Linked DNA regions of Homo sapiens: regions 2 and 3 are each linked to region 1. The links come from fine-mapping of genetic effects on gene expression. A gene starts in region 1. Each other region holds a variant in brackets. All regions are shown on one strand. Distances are between the middles of the regions.

The links. PIP is the estimated chance that this variant, and not a neighbour inherited with it, causes the effect. A credible set is the group of variants that fine-mapping cannot tell apart.
Region 2: its variant is the best candidate, but not a certain one, in a credible set for the expression of KIAA0753 in atrial appendage (GTEx, PIP 0.57).
Region 3: its variant is the best candidate, but not a certain one, in a credible set for the expression of KIAA0753 in esophagus muscle (GTEx, PIP 0.83).

The regions. Positions count from the first base shown.
Region 1 is chr17:6,638,410-6,642,616 of GRCh38, reverse strand. It overlaps KIAA0753, which reads left to right and starts at 1,906. Exons shown (of 19, transcript NM_014804.3): 1 at 1,906-1,980. TXNDC17 (thioredoxin domain containing 17) reads right to left here and starts at 1,557. Exons shown (of 4, transcript NM_032731.4): 1 at 1,390-1,557; 2 at 783-864; 3 at 293-368. The coding sequence starts at 1,534. LOC122526780 reads left to right here and starts at 2,301. Exons shown (of 1, transcript NM_001396008.1): 1 at 2,301-4,207. The coding sequence starts at 2,301. RefSeq lists enhancers at 838-897, 1,098-1,367, 1,498-2,379, 3,278-3,347.
Region 2 is chr17:6,568,242-6,572,448 of GRCh38, reverse strand. No RefSeq gene overlaps it. Among named protein-coding and RNA genes, the nearest start is that of PITPNM3, 14 kb to the right of the region's middle. The variant G/T (reference allele first, on the strand shown) is at 2,416.
Region 3 is chr17:6,608,815-6,612,814 of GRCh38, reverse strand. KIAA0753 reads left to right here. Exons shown (of 19, transcript NM_014804.3): 8 at 667-896; 9 at 2,655-2,821. Among named protein-coding and RNA genes, the nearest start is that of KIAA0753, 30 kb to the left of the region's middle. The variant T/C (reference allele first, on the strand shown) is at 1,989.

The DNA.
Region 1 (4,207 bases):
AACCAGAATTATGAATTAAACAGAAAACAACTGTTGATGCAAATGTTTTAAGGAATTATGAGTCAACCTACTTTCTGGTTTTTTAAGAGTGACTTAACATGAAAAAGACCTAATAGCTAGATATTTACATTATCAGTTTATTGGGATTGGCCATAGGAATGGACTTTCAGCAGCACTCTGAACAACAATGGAATTGAGATGAAATGTCAAGATCTTTTCAAATCTGGATCCACAGCAAGTTAAAAGAGTTCTGACAGTGAATTACAGGCCCAGCATATTTAAAGATACTTACTGTTCCATACTTAAGTAGTGTAGGCACTGCTGTTACTTTCAAGTTTTTTCTGAAGTCATTATTTGGATCTTTCCAACTATTCGAAAAGAAAAAGTGATCATGAAAAAAATTTACTTGGTTTATTACAGTTTGCTTAATATTTGACATAGTCCTACATTTAATTTTTTAGTAATCACTGTTCTTGCAAACACTTAAAAAACCTTGCGGACTATGGCTTAATCTACTAATTACCCTGTGCAAAGTTTCAAAGTGTGACTAAGATATAAAAGTAAAGCCAGCTAAGTTCTGGGCTTACACCAGACCAAATTCGTTGAATTACCCTTACTTAATTCAGGTGGGCATTTTAAATTTGTATTTAATAGCTTCTAATTGTTTAACTTGTCAGACATTACCTTGTAAGACAAACTGGGTAAGTAAGTCCCTGAGGCCCTTCCCGCCTAAGTATGCAATTTGTGCACGTCTGCGAGGTAGATTATACATTGCCACTTACTAAGGCTTTTCTCCTACTTGGCAGTAGATGAACACACATCCTTCACTAATGTGCTTCAGCCCCTCTCGTACGACTGGTTCAGCTTTAAAAAAAGTTGAGATAAAATAATCGCACGTCAACTCTACAATCAGGCACGTATAAACTGTGTTCTTTCCCCCTTCCCCCAGTCTTGGTAAGCACTCAGACTTTAACCTGCAGCTAACTGAAGAGGTCAACACAAGTCAGGTGTTCCCTTCTGGTCTTAGAGCCACGTTAAGGGTAAGGACCAAATCCCAGTCCCGATTTGCCCCTGCACCACCGCGCCCGTAACAATGGAAAGCACATGTATTTGCTGACCAACTCACGTATCCTGTAAGACACTAATGGTACTGGGGGAGTGAGAAGTTTTAAGGAACTAGATTCCAAGATCATCCGGGTAAGGTGGTAAAAGGAAGAGCGCTCTTGGCAGGGCGGGGTAGGATTTAATAGAAGGAGACTTGGGGACAGCTCAGATTGCTCCGCGGATGTCTGGAACCAAGACTCTGCCTCCGCTAAGCCCCCCTTCTGGCCGTAGGCTCGACCTTCCTGCCATTTCCATTGGACAGCAGCCCCCGAATCCCGGCCTCACCCTGCACGCAGTCGGGGCACCAGCTTTTCCCCCCGGCGTCCTTAGAACCCGTAAAGTAGGCGAAAATGGTCTTGCCATTGTGCTGTTCCACGGCCCGGTGGAACTCCTCGAAGCCGGACACGCTCACCTCCTCATAGCGGGCCATTGGCACGACGTGCAGCCGCTACTGGAGGAGTGCACGTCCGGTCGCCGCGGTTGGGTCCCGCGTAGGCGGGGCGAGGCTGTTTCCGGGTGGGCAAGAGAGGGCGGAGCCTGCGGAAGCCAGCGCCGCTAAAGACTACGGGAGCCTCTGACGACCACAATCCATCCGCATGGCTTTTTGCTCTAGTTCCTCAGATCTTTCTGCGCTAGCTGCACTCCCAAGCCCAGGCTTAGATCTACCCTAATCTAGTCCCAGCCCCGACCTCATGGACACTGGCTGCAAAACTTACCGCCTTGCAACACCTGGATCCTTAAATAGTTCAGGGCCTCAAAGGCTCCCAAGCCGCCCTGCGCCTGTTGCTATGGCGACTGGGCAGGCGGCCGGAAGCGCGGCCTTGTTGGGGGCCCCCGTTGCCCGCCTCCCAGTAGCCGCGCCTCACCCTAGGCCAGGTGGGCTCGGGCCGGGGCTGGGGGGGATTCTGGGAAGCCGCATAGAGTCATGGACTTGGGGGAGAGGAGATCTGACTCGGAAAGCCTTTGTTGCTTTGTCCCCCCAGTTACCTTTTCTGCCGTCTAGGCTTTACGGGGGCCTGGGACTGGGGGCGGGTTCCCGAGACTGGGCGGGGGTGGGATGGGTGAGGGGCTCGGAGGGAGAAAGGCTGCAAGGCCGGAGCGGAGTGTGTGAGTGCGTGTGTGGAGCAGCTTAGGGAGCGAGGTGCTAAGACATCCCCCAGGGCCGCGGTAGGGAGGAAGGGAACTGCCCTGGAGCTATGAGCCGGGAGACTCGCCGTGGGGCCTTGCCCAGGCTGCGCCGGGGAGAGCAGGCGGCTAAGATGCCGGGTCGCTGCGTGGGGCCCAGCAGGTCGGGGCGGGGGGTTCGGCGGCCGTGGGGGAAGAGACGGGGCGCAGGGACGTCCCGAGGCCGTGGAGCAAGGCGCCGGGCGAAGCCCTCGGAGTGGGAGACGCGCTGTGTGAGTGCAGAAAGGCCACAGGGCCGTCAGCGGCCATGGGGGACGAGACAAGCGGCGGAGACAGCCGACGCCGCCGGGGCGAATGAGGCTTTGGGAGCTCCTGGGACCCCAGGCTCCATCGAGGCTGCAAGGGACCCTGGGGCTGTGTGGGTGAACGGGGCTGTGGGGGAGCCCGAGGTGGTGGGGCTTGCCGGGGCTGTGTGGGTGACCGGGTCTGGGGAGGAGGAGACCGAAGATAGAAGTCCCCGGGGCTGCGAGAGAAAAGGTCGCCCGGGATCTCTGGGCCATGAGAGCATTCTGCACCTGTGGCTGAAGGTGCAGGCTATGAGGGCCGCCTCGGGATGTGGGGAAGGAAGTAGAGTCGAGCTCCATCCCGTGCCTGCAGGAGAGGGACCTGTCGAAAGGGGTGTTCCTGGCCGAGCTTCCTGGGTAGAGACAAGCCGCGGCGGTCTTACAGGGCCCTGGGTGAAGGAACAGGCAAGGGGGATCCCTCGGGCCCCCTCAGGGCCCACAGCTCTGGGCTTAGGGGCAGCTTACGAGAGAGCCTTAGGCTTCTGTGGACAGGGACAGGCTGGGAGGGTGCCTCCTGCGAGTGTGCCTGGGGCTTTGGCGTCAAGTTCTGAAATGGCCCCGCACCTGTGGAGGGGAGAAGCTGTGGGGGTTCCTGAGACTGGGGAGGAGATAGGCTATGGGTTTGTCTCAGGCCCTTGTGAAAAAGAACAGACTATGGGCGAGCCTGGGACCGTGGGGTGGACTGGGGCTGTGGGAGCGCCCAGAGCCATGGAGGGAGAGCTCGGCTGTGGCGGTGCTGCAGGTCTGTGGGGGAGAGGACAGTCCCCGCAGATTCCTGGGGCTCTGACACATGAAGCAGTCTGTGGGGCCACCCCTGGCGTATGGGGGAGGGGACAGGCTGTGGGGGTGTCCGATGCTGTGGAGGAGGAGCCTACTTCTGTGGGTGCCGCAGGTGTGTGTTACAGGAGACAGGCTGTGGAGGAGACAGACTCTGTGGGTATGCCCGGCCCGTGGGGCACAGGATACTCTGTTGGGGTGCCCTGTGCTGCTGAAGAGGAAACTAGATGTGGAGGTGACCCAGGGTTCAGGGAAAGGGGACAGCCTGTGTGGGTGGAGACAGGCTCTGGGGGTGATCCAGGGTCACGGGGAGCTGCGCAGACTGCAGAGTCATCATGTCCTGGGGAGCAGGCAGCAGGTTCTGGGGGTGCCCCAGGCCTGTGGGGGATACAACAGGCTACAGGGGTACCCAGGGCCTTGGGGAAGGACACGGGCTGTGTGAGTGTCCCAGGGCTGTGGGGAGCGGGACAGATGGTAAGGGTGCCCCAGGCTGTGGTGGTACCTGGAGCCCTGGGAGAAGAGCTGAGCCACAGCGGGGGCCTGGGCCTGTGGGACGGACAGCAAGCTCTTGGGGGGCCCCCAGCCGAGGCAGTGCCTGGGCTTGGAGAGGAGACCTGTAGTGGGAATGTTCTGAGCCCGTGGGAAAGGAGGCAGGCTGTGGGGGAGCCAGAGAGTCTGGGGCCTCCAGCTTTAGGGGTCCCTGGGTCAGTGGATCAGGAGGCTGGCTGTGGAGATGTTGCATGTCAGTGTGGGAGGAGGCAGGCTGTGGGGGTGTCTGAGACGGTGGGCATACCCAGGGCAGCAGATGTGCCCCGGCAGGGGTGTGCCGCAGCAGGGGTCCTCATGGCAATGGGTGT
Region 2 (4,207 bases), 70 kb after region 1:
AACATGGTGAAACCCCGTCTCTACTAAAAATACAAAAATTAGCCTGGCATGGTGGTGCACGCCTGTAGTCCCAGCTACTCAGGAGACTGAGGCAGGAGAATCACTTGAATCTGGGAGGCGGAGCTTGCAGTGAGTCTAGATCATGCCACTGCACTCCAGCCTGTGTGACAGAGTGAGACTCTGTCTCAAAAAAAAAAAAAAAAAAAAAGAAAAAAGAAAAAGAAAAAAAGAAAAAAGAAACACAAAGAGAGTTTAGACACAGACCTTTTCAAAGCAGAATAAAAACAAAGCAGGAGGAGAGGGAAGCTAGCGTACTGTGGTTGTACATTGCAAGGGGCGATTCACTGTTACTGAGTGAGGGTTGTGGTTTTGATGGTCTTCATGGAGGAGGTGGCTTTGAATTAGGCCTTGAAAGATAGTTGACGCTTTTCCAAAGCGTGAAGTCTTGAAAGTGGGGGACATAGGTGTGAACACAGTGCGATTAGACAGCAAAGGTGCTGGCGGTATTTACCAGAGCCGAGAGGTCCACACTGCCATCTCAGCCCTACGCAGGTGAGCAGGAGAGCACCCTGTACCCCAGGAGGCTGAATGCATTGGAGGCACTGAGGAGTGGCCTCAACAGCTCATTACTCCACCGGGCAAAGAATTTCATCCAGCTTCAAGAAGATGCTGTTGAGTAGGAATAGACAGCTTCCCCCATCCTGTCCTCCCTCCCTCCCTTTGAAAGCAAGACTTACCTCGGATTGCCCTTGCTCACGCTTTCTAATCTTTATTCTGTTTCTAAATGGGGGAGTCTACCGGGACCCCCAGGCCCTTGTCAAGTGCTCCATCTGTATTTAATCAATCCCTCCTCTGAAATCCAATCCGTCATAAATTCCAGCCGCACAATAAATGTGTAGAGAGGTCTGCAGGCATGGGCTTTTATAGTCAAAGAGAAACAGAATTGGTGCCCAAATGATTGAATGGAGAACAATGGGACTCCGAGAGAGGTGCGTGCAGGAGGGGCAAATATCGGAGGGCGAGTGGCTGTGCCTGGAGAGCCTGCTGTTCTTGGCCTGAGTGTGTGCCCTCCCAGCAAGGCGGGCATGTCCTCTGCCGGCCTCCCCGCATTTATTAGCCCTTGGTAATGGATTTTATATCTGCTCAGTGTGATGAAGGAGTCTTGGCAGTCCTCAGAGACCTGCAGAGTCTCCTCCCAGCCCTCCAATGAGAAGCCGGCAGCCTTCGTCACCCTTGTAGGTGGCTCTCTGGCCAACATTTACTTTAATGTCAAAAAGAAATCCCAGGCATGGGATTTGAAACAGACGCGGGGCCAACAGGGTGGCTGGGTCTTTGCGAGGACAATCTGGGCAGGGCCTGGGGGCCTGGGCTCTTTCTCTCCATGTTGATCGTGGTGTAGCCTCTGGAGGGGCACGTAGTGGGCTCCCCATTCCGGGCTGGGGCCTCGGACTGGCATGCATCACTTGTGACCTGCAGCATGTGTGACAGAGGCCGCCTGGGCATGAGGGCGGGGGCTGCTGGCTTGGCCGCCAAAGCTTTTAATTAACTCAGATAATTGTTCACAGCTTTAGGCATGAAAGCCCCAGGCTCCTCACACTGACTTAGGGGGCCTGTTTCCCATCGGAACAAAGGAATTGACTAAAACTGGAGTTCTTGCTATTTTGAAGGGTCAGGACCCCTTTATAAACCTGGACAATGCTGTGGACCCTTTCTTCAATAAAGACACACACATAGGGGCCGGGCGAGGTGGCTCACGCCTGTAATCCCAGCACTTTGGGAGGCCGAGGCGGGTGGATCACGAGGTCAGGAGCTCGAGACCAGCCTGGCCAACATGGTGAAACCCCGTCTCTACTAAAAATACAAAAATTTGCCAGGCATGGTGGCGCGTGCCTGTAGTCCCAGCTACTCGGGAGGCTGAGGCAGGAGAATGACTTGAACCCAGGAGGCGGAGGTTGAAGTGAGCCGAGATCGCGCCACTGTGCTCCAGCCGGGGCGACAGAGCGAGACTCCATCTCAAAAAAAAACAAACAAACAACAACAACAAAAACAAAAACAACTATCTAGAACAGTTCATGTACCTAGCAGTGTCCTTGTCACAATACACTTTCCGATCTCCGAGGCAGGCAGAGGCTTTACTACCCCTTTTTCTGTGAATGAGAGCAAAAACCCAGAGTGGAAACAGGTCTCACAGGAAATCAGAAGCAAAACTGGGACTAGGCCTACGGTCCTCTGATTCCCAGTCTGGTGCTCTCTTTTGATGCATGAAAAAAACCCCAAACAAACCAAAACAGAAAACCTCATCCCCCCACCCCAGGAATGTCCAATAACTCTTCCCCTCTGTGTACGGAGGGGAGCAGAAATCCACTTCCCCAAGTGGAGCCTCACTGCATCTTAGGCTCAGAAGGCTTTTGTTAA[G/T]TATTACTTTCTACAGCTTGAAATAGAATGTCAAGAAATAGAACTCTGAAAATCATGGTTGTTCTTACTTCCCAAGTATGAAATATTGCAATGTCGAAACATTGGAAAGCACACAGCCTGCAGCAGCCCCAACAGGAAAGCACTACGGGAGGACCAGCAGCCTCTTCCTCCCTGGGAGGCGGGGAGGGATCAATCTGGGAGACCCCCCAGCCCCTTCTGTGCAGTTTCCTGCAGAGGATGCTCTCACGTCCTCATGCCGGGAGGAGTGCCCATCACAGGTGGCCGAAAAGTCCCTCGCTCACACACCCCTAAACAAAGGCAGCTGCACCCTTCTGAAGGTTTCTGGAACCCTTAACTTTGGCTGGGGTCTCGGGGTGAGCTCTGGGGGGATTGCTGGGTAGGTGTGATGACACAGCCCCTGCTGTTGAAGTCATTTGGAATTCATGATGCAATCCCTCATGAGAATTGTCCAACCCTCAGAAGTCTATTGCACTCTCTATGCCCTTGGAATATGGTTATGTGGATACAGGGTCCTGCCTCCCAAGATAGGACCCTTCAATCTTTGTCTCCCACACCTGGAAGCTGGGGCATGCATGTCCCAGGCTTGGCTAATCATGCTTGGCTGGAATGAGTGATTCAAAACTGATGTTTCTTTATAACCCACTCATTCAGGGGCTGGTGTGTACAGCGAAGAGAGTGGCCATCAGACTAAAGTCCTTCTGCTAAAAGGTGACTGCTGTGCTTTCTAGAAAGTTCTTGGCCTTCTCCAGCAGCCTCAGTTCCCATCTGCTTTTCTTTTTTTTCGTTTTTGAGACAGAGTCTTGCTCTGTTGTCCAGGCTGGAGTGCAGTGGCGTGATCTCTGCTCACTGCAACCTCTGCCGCCCAGGTTCAAGCGATTGTCTGGCCTCAGTCTCCCGAGTAGCTGGGGCTAAAGGCATGCACCATCACACCCAGCTAATTTTTGTATTTTATTTTATTTTATTTTTTAGTAAAGATGGGGTTTCACCATGTTGGCCAGGCTGGTCTCGAACTCCTGACCTTAAGTGATCTGCTCAGCTCGGGCTCCCAAAGTTCTGGGATTACAGGCATGAGCCACTGTGTCCAGCCCCATCTGCTTTTCAAGCCTATCCCTGCAGGCTCCTCTGATTCTCTGAGATCCCGATAGCCTGCCAATAAACTCCCTTTCTGCTTCAGAGAGACTGAATCTGTGTCTGTTACTTAGAAAGGGAAGCAACCGGTGTTGCATACACATTGCCTGGACCTTCTATGACATCTGCAAGCAACTGCGATCTGTGTACCTGCTACATGCTGCTGCTTCTCTTGACAGCGATGCGTGGAAGGGAATGCTTCTCAGGGCGACACAGAGAGAGAGGAAAGACTTACCGACACAAGCCAGGGACAGCCGCCTACATCTCCATGGGAGAGTGGGAGGAGAGAGCCTTGAGTTAAGAGCCTGGACTGTCTTTCAGTCCCAGTTGTGCCACCAAATGCCCTGTTTTTGACTGCCCCCCACCCCCATTACCCAGTGCTGAGCTTCCCCATCAGTACAGTGAGGTGCCGGGGTTGGATCCCGTGGATTCGGGAGGGCCTTCCTCCGCCGCCAGGTTCCAAGTCCAGGAAGTCCTTCCAGCTATTCTGCTTCCTCATCTGCACAGAGGAAGCCCCCACCAGCTGAGACTCCCTCCCCAGGTGCTCTGAACCTGAAAACAAAGAGCAGTTGTGTGCCCCTCCCTGTCCATCACTTTCCCTACCCGTCACACCTCTCTCCCTCTCTCCCCCTTATAAGCTGCA
Region 3 (4,000 bases), 30 kb after region 1:
CTCACTGCAACCTCTGTCTCCTGAGTTCAAACGATTCTCCTGCCTCAGCCTCCTGAGTAGCTGGGATTATAGGTGGCTGCCACCATGTCTGGCTAATTTTTGTAGTTTTAGTAGAGATGGGGTTTCACCATGTTGGCCAGGCTGGCCTCGAACTCCTGACCTCAGGTGATCCACCTGCCTCAGCCTTCCAAAGTGCTGGGATTTCAGGCGTGAGCCACCGCCCCTGGCCAGAAGTGACATTTAAATATTACATTTGAGAAGCACAATTTTGGTAGCCAGAAGACAGTGTGAAGATAAACAGGAGATCAGTTAGGAGACACTGTTATTCCAGTCACAGGATACTGCAAGCCTGACCTTGGGTAATAGCAAAAGGGAAGGAAGGGCAGAGATAAATGTAAGAGCTATTTTAAAATTAGGATCAAAGGGACCAGGTAAATGAGTAAATATGATAGCGAAGATTCAGGGAGTCAACCGTGACACCTAGGTTTCTGCTTATAAACCTGCAGTAATATTCATAGGAGGAGGAACAATGTTGACAACAAAACATCTGCTTCTCAGCAGGGCTAGGATAGGTATTTGGAGCCTATCTGTGTGTAGATAATCATTCTCAGCAATTTGATTTGAATAGCATTTTCCTCAGTTTGTTTTTCAAAAATTTCCATGTAGATAAGTATCAGCCCGATACGGAGCTTCCGGAGACCCAGAGGTTGCAGAGTGAGCTTGATGTATTAGATGCGGATATAGTTCTGGAAGAAGGACCATTTATTCTAGACCAAAGTGCAAGCTTCAAAGACGAGGTGTTAGCCGTGGCAAAAACAAAAGCAGGGAAAAAGAAGCCTGTGACTGAGAATGTGCCGTTTAGGAAGAAAGATACTCTGGCGCCAGCAAGACAGCAAGTATGAAATCATTCCTCTCTTTTGGCCCATTTGTGTTAATCTGACATTGTCAAGGTCACATAAACTGGTATATGGTGGAGCCAGTTCTCAGGCAATTGGATGCTGCAGTCCTTGAGTCTGGCTATTTAAGTTGTTTATATATTTTAACAAAAAAATAACAATTTTTAATATTGTTACTAGAATAGAGAATTCTTTCTATTCCTGGTTTGGTAAGATCCTAACTAATATGATACCAATATCCTAATTGGGCAGGAGATTTTAAAATTCAGTTTTTTTTCTGCTTCTGATTTGGAAGTGTGAGACTTGAGGGGATTAAGATTTGGTTCCTGCCGGGTGTGGTGTCTCAGGCCTATAATCCCAGCAATTTGGGAAGCGAGAGGATTGCTTGAGGCCAGGAGTTTAAGACCAGCCTGGGCAACATAGTGAGACCCCATCTCTACTAAAAACAAAATTAGCCAGATGTGGTAACTCATGCTTGTAGTCCCAGCTATTTGGGAGCCTGAGGCAGGAAGATCACTTGATCCCAGGAGTTTGAAGCTGCAGTGAGCTGTGATCGATCCACTGTACTCCAGCCTGGGCAACAGAGTAAGACCCTGTCTTAAAGAAAAAAAAAAATTAGTTCCTGCTAAAGATAAATATCGATCAATAATAATTACTGCATATTAAAAGGGCATCCTAGGGTGAGTGCTTTCTAATATGGCTTTGGGAGCCAGCAGGGTACAACTTGATTTGAAACTACATTATATTTTAAGCTTCTGTTTAAAACTTACTTATGGCCCTATCAGTGGAAAACTGGCCAAAAGACCACCTCCTGGTCGAATACCCTTATTGTATTAGTGACATTTGGTGGTCTTGCCCAAAGGCTTCTTTAGCAAATCTGTTTATTTTCAGGTGGCCTCCAGAAAAGGAGAGTTAGCAGTTATCCCAAGTTATTGACAGATAATGGATTAGGATCAAGTCTGTTTCTTCCCAAACTTCTATGGCAGGGGGCGACCATGAATCATTGAGATGTCAAGATTGAACCTGTAGGAATTCAGATGGGTGCGCCTCTCCACAGACAGCCCGCATTCTCGATAACATTTTTTAAATCGC[T/C]AGATTCATTCTATTTAGACCTAAGGCCCAGAGAGGTTAAGTATTTTTATGAAAAATGTTTTACTCATTACTTGAGCCCAGGAGTTCAAGACCAGCCTGGACAACACAGTGAGACCCTGGCTCTACAAAAAATAAAAAATTAGCCAGGCATGGTATCTAACACTTGTGATCCCAGCTATTCAGGAGGCTAAGGCAGGAGAATCGCTTGAGCCCAGGAGTTTGAGGCTGCAGTGAGCTATGATCATACCTCTGCACTCCAGCCTAGGCAACAGAGCAAGACCCTGTCTCTTAAAAAAAAAAAAAAAAAAAAGAGAAAGAAAAGAAAAAAGAAAAATAATTTAACAATATGGTATGAAATTTTTTTTGTTTAATTAGGAAACAAATTGTGAATAAATAAAAATATATTTTATATATTGTTTATATGTTTAAAGGTGTCAGGCAGAGCCAGGGATTTAAATTCTACACCCTCCACCCCCCGCCCCTACCATGGTTGTTTCAATGAAATTTACACCCTCCCCCAAATTTCTGCCACAGTGCTTTCTACTCAGGTTTTACCGAATGGATGCATGAATAACATGGAGAACTTGGAGCTTCAGTGAGTCAGAGGTTAAACCATAGTTTCTTTGGTATTTGTGTGGCCTTATAATTCTTACTTATCTCTCACAGGGACTCCGCAAAGCTGAAAGAGGTAGACAAAGCCAACCTCACAGTAAAAGCAGAGTGCAGCAGACAACAGTTTCATCCAGATTAAAAATGAACCGGCAGCCTGTGAAAGACCGCAAGGCACCATGGATACCCCCAAACCCCACATCCCCACCAGCGTCTCCTAAATGGTATGTGAAAACTCAAGGGACCGTTTGTGTATGTGATGCTCTTTTTCCTCCATATATCAAAGGTGACCTGTAGCTTATAAGGAGCAAATTAAGTAGTAGCCTTAATTTTTTCCATTAAGCAGAAATCCTTTTTTGGGTGAGTCATACATGAGAAGTCTTTGTCTGGAAGCTTGTTGGTTCCTTCTTCTGCCTGACTGTGGTTGGAACACCCTTCCATGGGCCACCCCAACACCGGGACATGTGTGATTGAATGGAAGATGGGGGGCTTCCCTTCACTTGTCTCTTCTGCCAATAGATTCTAGTAACTTGAGGCCAGGGACTGTGTCTTTTTTATATTCTTTTTTATATTTGAATGTCCAGTGCTAGTCACATAGTAGGCATTCAGTAAATCTTTGCTGAGTAAATAAATATTTTAAAATAATTCTAACTCTAAGTCAAGATAATTATGAACTATAAAACTATATAGATCTCACCAACACTGTCTTAGCTGCAGGGAGCAATTAGGATAATGTTGATGTTACTGTCTTGTCATCCTCACTCATAGCACATTAGAATGAGAAGCTGCCATTTCACAGGGCTAGAGAGAAGAGGAGCAGGGTCCAGTTAGGTGGAAATAATCTTTAGGGGAATCGGTTGAAGATAAAGGGGAGCTCGTTTGCCGTGAGGCAGTAGTTTTTGAAAACACAATGGAAAGGACCAGGAGGTGGAACAGAAAAAGGAAAGAAGTAAAAAGCAGTCATGTCAGGGGAGAAGGGAGAAGATAGGTGACTACAGGGTTCTGTCTTTGGAGCCATCAGAAGTCAGGGTGAGCAGCTTGGTGGAAGAGAAGCCCCCTAAGATTCCGAATGAGTGTGAAGGAATGGCCGTGCTCATCCATCCACTCTCATTTTCAAGTTAAGGAAACAATGTTTAGAGAATTTAATGTCTTATTCATGTAACAGCCAGACCTAAAATCAGGTCTTCTGACTTCATAATGTGCTTTTTTTGTTTTTATTACTCTATTCTGTTTTCTGTATTTTTGTATACAAGTATTAATATGGAGATTTACATTCAGTTGATAAGCTCAGTGGTTGAAGTTTGTATTACAAACCAAATATACAATGGACTGTCTTTTAGAGTGCATGTGTGGTGGGTAGAGGAGGGTGGGTGAGGCTTCTAGGCTCAACAGTGCTGTTAGGC